2 linked regions of the Homo sapiens genome follow. The protein of the gene in region 1 interacts with the protein of each later gene in a pairwise test. Each region holds a gene or a part of one and is shown in the gene's direction. Other genes may lie near its edges.

What was found.
Region 2: the proteins of SLC27A6 (region 1) and TNFRSF10C interact in a two-hybrid assay, tested with the Homo sapiens proteins (one large-scale study listed by BioGRID).

Annotation. Positions count from the first base shown.
Region 1 is NC_000005.10:128,963,763-128,968,349, forward strand, and holds the start of SLC27A6 (long-chain fatty acid transport protein 6), read left to right. Parts: upstream 1-1,725; 5' UTR 1,726-2,375; coding exon 2,376-2,856; intron 2,857-4,587. UniProt on the Homo sapiens protein: Mediates the import of long-chain fatty acids (LCFA) into the cell by facilitating their transport at the plasma membrane.
Region 2 is NC_000008.11:23,112,602-23,115,432, forward strand, and holds part of TNFRSF10C (tumor necrosis factor receptor superfamily member 10C precursor), read left to right. Parts: intron 1-2,055; coding exon 2,056-2,169; intron 2,170-2,831. UniProt on the Homo sapiens protein: Receptor for the cytotoxic ligand TRAIL. Lacks a cytoplasmic death domain and hence is not capable of inducing apoptosis. May protect cells against TRAIL mediated apoptosis by competing with TRAIL-R1 and R2 for binding to the ligand.

The DNA of each region.
Region 1 (4,587 bases):
GATGGTATTAGAATGTCCATGATAAGAAAAATAAGTGCAGCAAAATAAAAGAAATGCCACGCCTATCTTTCTGTATTATTTTTTCCACTGGAGAAGGACAGATTTTACTCATTAAAACTACAAAAGTCTGAGACCAACTGCTCCATATTCTTTTGTGTTCGTTAAATGTTGTTATTTGGAGGTGACTTAATTAGACTAAAGCTAGAAGAGAAAACAATAGAATGTCAAAGATGCTTTTCAAGTTGTAAACTAATGTTTTAAGTTATAAACTACTTGATACTATTTTCTTAATTAAAAAGATATTTCTGAATCGAAAAGATCAAAGCTTCTGAGTAAATTTAGAAAGCATTTTTTTGTCATTTACAGAAAAGGGCTTTAAGAGCCTATGTTCCTTTGGCTTTAAGAGCTCTTCACTGTGACTTCAAAGTAATCATTTTCAGATTAATAAACTGGAGCTCGTCTTTGGAATTATCAGTTTTTCTTTTATTACAGAATCTGAGGTTAGCCAGAATCCATCTGCAGAACATGAGGCAGAAGGGAGAAACACCTAACAAGGTGAGGCCTTCCTTAACTATTTTAACACAAGCAATTAACCATTTATACTCACTTAAAAGCAGACAGCTGGGATGATGGTGTCTGCTAAAAAAAAAAAGTGTAATGAAATGTTCTTTAGTTTTTTGATCTTTAGTAAAATTTCATCTTCGTATAAAATTTTATTAACCATTCCACTAACTTGTTACTTCTCCACTCCACCTCCCCACTCCCTTTAGAATCCTTAGTTTGAAGACATAATTCTTTAAATGATCTGTCTCAGGGAGGGGGGATCTTGTTACTTTTAAGGACTGCAAATAGCATTATAAACTTTGTTTTTATTTTTAAATACGAATATCGACTGAAGCTCTCAAATCAATCAATATTGTTGCCAAATTTTGTAAAACGCACTGTCTTAGCTCTCTAACGATAGAGTTCTAATATAAATGTAAAAACCAACCTATCAACATGTTTTCAAAAATACTTTTTGTAAAGAACAGTACAATTTTGTGGTGTCCAAATATTCCTTTCTTTCTTACAAAATATTATTGGATCTGTCCAGTTCATAAATATTCCTGCCCTCTCTTCCTCCCTCCCTGCCTCTCTCTCCCTGCAGTTTTTTTGATGTTTGTTCTTTTCTTTCCATTTTCTAGTTATTAATTGGTTCAATGGATGACCTTTGTGCGACACTGTTATACCTTATCAGCCTCGCCAGGGCCCCCGCGCCGCCCAATCCCAGCAACTCTGGTTCTCCTGTGACCCCAAGCCTTCCAGATCCCTGGGTTTCCCCCCACGGGACTGTCACATTCTTCCCCGCCGGAGACGCCAGTCGCGGGGCCTCCTCCCTGGGGTGTGAGCAGGTCGGCGCGCCACACTTCTCTAGGTGGCCGGACGCGCGCCCAGGGAGGAGCTGGCGGCGGGGCCCAGGCTGTTCCGGCTGCGGCACGCCAGGGGATGTGGTTAGCCCTGAGCCTGGAGGCCGAAGGTGGGCAGGCAACACTCCCACCATGTTTCGGAGGAGAATACACTAGGCTAGCCTAACGACACTCGGAGTGCGAGCTGCGGCTGGGGTAGGGGCACCCCTTTCCAGCGGGCGCGTGGGTCACCAAGGAGCAGTTCTCCGGGACCCGTTGCGTCAGAGGGACTGGGCGGGGCTGGGCGGGGCAGGACGGGGGCGGCGCTCAGGAACCCTGGAACCCGCTGGCCCTGAGGCCACGGACCGAGACGTGGTGCTGAGCCCCTGCGCGGTTTCTGGTGCGTAGAGACTGTAAATCGCTGCGCTTCTCAGTCATCATCATCCCAGCTTTTCCCGGCTCGAATTCAGCCTCCAACTCAAGCTCGCGGGAAAGACTACCTGAGAGGAGAAAAGCTTCTGTCCCTGGACCTTCTTCTGAGGGTGGTGAGGTTTGTTTAGGGTCGCAGAAGCAGGGAGGACTGACTCAGCCCTCACAGAGAAGAGGTCTGGAAAGTCCTGGGGAACTCGCAGGGCACGGGCCGCTGTCGCGGTTGGGAGGCGAGGGCGCAGCGCTGGGGTTGTAGATTCCAAGACCCCTGAGGGTGGCTGTGTTGGTTTCTCGCAGGAGTCGGAGGCTCCCTGCTTTCCAGCCGCCCAGTGACCCAAGCTTAATCTTCAGCACCACTTGGGGCGACCTTTTCGGTGCAAACCTACGATTCTGTTTCTCAGGATTCCTCCCCATCCCGCTTCGCCCCGGAAAAGCTGACAAGAACTTCAGGTGTAAGCCCTGAGTAGTGAGGATCTGCGGTCTCCGTGGAGAGCTGTGCCTGGAAGAGAAGGACGCTGGTGGGGGCTGAGATCAGAGCTGTCTTCTGGCCCAGTTGCCCCCATGCTTCTGTCATGGCTAACAGTTCTAGGGGCTGGAATGGTCGTCCTGCACTTCTTGCAGAAACTCCTGTTCCCTTACTTTTGGGATGACTTCTGGTTCGTGTTGAAGGTGGTGCTCATTATAATTCGGCTGAAGAAGTATGAAAAGAGAGGGGAGCTGGTGACTGTGCTGGATAAATTCTTGAGTCATGCCAAAAGACAACCTCGGAAACCTTTCATCATCTATGAGGGAGACATCTACACCTATCAGGATGTAGACAAAAGGAGCAGCAGAGTGGCCCATGTCTTCCTGAACCATTCCTCTCTGAAAAAGGGGGACACGGTGGCTCTGCTGATGAGCAATGAGCCGGACTTCGTTCACGTGTGGTTCGGCCTCGCCAAGCTGGGCTGCGTGGTGGCCTTTCTCAACACCAACATTCGCTCCAACTCCCTCCTGAATTGCATCCGCGCCTGTGGGCCCAGAGCCCTAGTGGTGGGCGCAGGTAGAGTATGGGGTGTGGTCTGCCTATACAGAATGGCAGCCCACCTGCTTTCATACCCTTTTTTTTTTCTTTAGGATAATTCGTAACTAATATTTTGGGTGAGTGAAGTGTGCATGTTAAGAGTACAAAATAGTTTTATGATTCTATGCTGGTTTAACAACTGTCTCCTCCCTTCAGGCACGTAGTTTCAGAAAACTTTTATGAAATCTCTGCTTCCTACCATTTTGAGACAGGGACAGTTTTACTGCTATTGGTTCCTTCAGTGAGTGCAAGAACACACAGAGAACTTGGTCACTTCTAAATTTTATCAGCTCTGACAAAATGGTGAATAGGAAAGTTATCTGACTTCATTGTGACACGTCTACCTACCTCTAATTGTACTTTATCAGGGATGACTACATTTGCAGAAGAGATATGTTTAAAGGAAGGTACCTGAATTCCTTTCTTCATGTCTGCTCTTATTTTATACTGTCTGCAAGCTAGGACTTGCCTAGCAAGGTTGCGCTCCCACCTGTGAGCCAGAACGTGGGCTCTTGGCAGACTCTAGGAGCCTTTCTGTTTCTTCTTCTTATCCTTCCATGCATCCTTTTCTTTTTTTGACTAAGTTCTACCCTTCCTCCTCCCCCTGCCTTGGAGTTAGGACATCTTAGGCTACACGTATTTTCACTGAACTGTAAAGAAAAGCCTGGGGTTTAGTGGCTAATTAGTAAAGAAGCTAGGAAGATGGGTTGCTTAATGAAATAGAAGTGAAATATGAAAAATGATACTTATTTGGTGTAATCTAAATGGTTTATGCAGAGTCTTCTTCAATGGGGAAGGAAGGTGCGGAAAGAGGAAGATCCATTGCAAGGACCATAATGAAAATATTTAAGTATTTTAGATTAATAGATACATACCAATACCTTGTATAAAGTTTTTAAACTCACAGAACAATATGGAAAAATATATTTATACCCTGGTGATCTCTAAGGTATAGAACTTTTCAAATAACCTTTATGATATAATATTTGTATATCAAACCAAAGTGAGTTAGGCAGTATATGGAAAATGGGCTAGCCCTTCAAGGCTATCACTGTTCCTAGTTCTTTTCAGTTCAACTTGTGGTCTGATAAAGTGGCAAATGTATACTTTTTCTTATTTATTATTATTTTTTATTATTATACTTTAAGTTCTAGAGTACATGTGCACAAAGTGCAGGTTTGTTATGTATGTATACATGTGCCATGTTAGTGTGCTGCACCCATTAACTCATCATTTACATTAGGTATTCCTCCTAATGCTATCCCTCCCCACTCCCCCCACCCCACGACAGGCCCTGGTGTGTGATGTTCCCCACCCTGTGTCCAAGTATTCTCATTTTTCAGTTCCCACCTATGAGTGAGAACATGTGGTGTTTGGTTTTCTGTCCTTGTGATAGTTTGCTCAGAATGATGGTTTCCAGCTTCATCCATGTCCCTACAAAGGACATGAACTCATCCTTTTTTATGGCTGCATGGTATTCCATGGTGCATATGTGCCTCATTTTCTTAATCAAGTCTATCATTGATGGACATTTGGGTTGGCTCCAAGTCTTTGCTATTGAGAAAAGTGCCGCAATAAACATACATGTGTGTGTGTCTTTATAGAGGCATGATTTAGAATCCTTTGGGTATATACCCGGTAATGGGATGGCTGGGTCAAATGGTATTTCTAGTTCTAGATCCTTGAGGAATCACCACACCGTCTTCCACA
Region 2 (2,831 bases), on another chromosome or scaffold:
CATAGTATCCTCCAGCTTCATCCATGCTGACACAAATGACAGAACTCCCTTCTTTTTAAAGGCTGAATAGTATTCCATTGTATCTATGTGTCACATTTTCTTTAACTTTTCATCCATCCATGGACACGTAGGTTGATTCCATGTCTTGACCATTGTAAATAATGCTCCAATGCATATGGGAGGGAAGATATCTCTTCAATATACTGACGTCATTTCCTTTGGATGTATACCCAATAGTGGGATTGCTAGATCATATAGTTGTTCTATTTTTTGTTTTTTGAGGAACCTCCATACTGTTTTCCATAATGGCTGTACTAATTTCCATTCCCACCAACAGTGTACCAGCATTCCTTTTTCTCCCCATCATCAACACTTGTTACCTTTTGTCTTTTTGGTAATAGCCATTCTTACAGGTGTGAAGTGATATTTGGCACTTGATGGTTAGTGATGCTGAGCATTTTTTTCATATACTTTTTGGCCACTTCTATGTCTCCTTTTGAGAAGTGTCTATTCAGGTCCCACGCCCATGTATCCATTTTACTTGGATTATTTGATTGTGTGCTATTGAGATGTTTGAGTTCCTGTGTATTTTGGATTTTAACCAAAATCTTGGATCTTTTGAATATTGACCCTCATTCTGTAGGTTGTCTCTTCACTCTGTTCATTGTTTCCTTTGTCATGCAGAACCTTTTTAGTGTAATGTAACCTCATTTGTCTGTTTTTCCTTTTGTTGCCTGTGCTTTTGGGGTCATAGTCAAGAAACCATTGCCCAGACCAACATCATGAAAATTTTCCCCTATGTATTCTTGTGGTAGTTTTACCATTTCAGATCTTATGTTTTAATCTTTAGTCCATTTTGAATTAATTTTTACATATGATGTGAGATAAAGGTCTTATTTCATTCTTCTGCATGTCAATACCTACTTTTCTCAACACCATTTATTGAAGAGCTGTCCTTTCCCCATTTTGTGTTCTTGGTATCTTTCTCACAATCAATCAACTGTAAATGCATTGATTTATACCTGGGTTCACTATTTTGTTCCATCAGTTTATTTACCATTGTTGTGCCATTACCATTCAGTTTTGATTACTATACTTTTGTAACACGTTTTAAAATCAGGTAGTACGATGCCTCCATCTTTGTTCTTTTGTTTGTTTTGCTTAAGATCACTTTGGCTATTTGAGGTCTTTTGTAGTTCCATACAAATCTGGGCGTGGTGGTGCGTCGCCTATAATCCCAGCTACTCGGGAGGCTGAGGCAGAAAAATCGCTTGAACCAGGGAGTTGGAGGTTGCAGTGAGCCGAGATTGTGCCACTGCACTCCAGCCAGGTGACAGAGCAAGACTCTGTCTCAAAAAAAAAAAAAAAGACACATGAATATACATAACAGTCAGGATGTCCTGATGGGAACCATGAAGAATAGTTAAGTGACAGGAGATAGACAAGGTTGGTGGGGCCTCTCGGGGATGGTGATTTGGGCTGATATTTAAAGTTGGACAGGGCCAGTCTTGCAGAGAGCCAGGAAGAGTGCTCTTGAGAAGGCCCTGAAGGAATGAGAACCCCAGGTTTCGGGGGCTTGGGGAGACTGAGCGAAGACAGGGGGCCACTGTGGTGAGTGGACAGCAAACAGGTCAGGTGGACCAGCATGGGCAGATCACATGTACAGTAGGTTGGATGTTATTTTGTGAGTGACGGCGTAAAAAAAGTAAAATATCTCAATGATGTGTATTGATTACATGTTGAAATGTAGTATTTCAGATATTTTAGGTTAAAACTATATTGTTAAAATTAATTTGGCCTCATTCTTTTTACTATTTTAATATGGCTCTCATAGAATTTGAATTTTGCATAGAATTTGAATTTTGTATTATATTTCTGTCAGCAGTGCCAGTCAAAGGTATGTAATAGATGCTGAATGGATGACAAGACCAAGCCTGGAAGAGTGGATTTCTCTGTCTCAATTCCAGTGAGGGCCAAAAAAGAAGTTTCCCCACCACTGTCAGCCTCTGGGAATTCTGTGGTGACTCATTCATTGGCTTTTCTCTTCCTTCCCAGGATCTCATAGATCAGAACATACTGGAGCCTGTAACCCGTGCACAGAGGGTGTGGATTACACCAACGCTTCCAACAATGAACCTTCTTGCTTCCCATGTACAGTTTGTAAATCAGGTACAGAATGTGTGGACCTCTTGTCCAGAGGTGGAGCGTGGGGCAATGAGGTGGGAGTTGTAGCCGATATGAGTCAGGGAACCAAGTTCCAGCCCAACCTGGTCTTCATCACCCTGTTCTATGATTATATATTTGACTGATTAAAAAAATAGAAAGAAATCTTTTCTATAATGCATGCCACCTGGCTGGGAAATCGTCTAAACTGTCAGCTGCAAGAGGGTGGGGGGATCATTAGAGCATAGAGAAGGCCTGGCCCAGTGGACAGGGCTAGGTTTCAGTAGTGGCACGGGTCTGCTCCAGGGCCAGGCTCTCTCCCCCAGGCTCTGTGCTCCTGGCAGGTGCTCGGCCTCACTCAGCCTTCAGGTTCTCAGGCCCCTTCCTCCTCCCCAGCAGGCCCAGGCTTTGGGGAAGTCCCCCAAGGCCTCCGTCTCCTTGCAGAGTCTCTCAGGTGATGCCCTTGCACCTCCCTTGCTACTGACCATGCCATCTAAACAATGCTTTTCCCCTAATCTGATGTAATAAATAATGAATTATGCTCCTTTTTATGACTCCTCTGAGTGCTGGTGACAGCTGAAGGGTGGGTGTCCTGTATGAGCCCTGAGTGTGCTGGTGCAGAAACTGGCCCTTAGAACTCCTTGGTGAACTTGGTTGAGCTGAGTGGG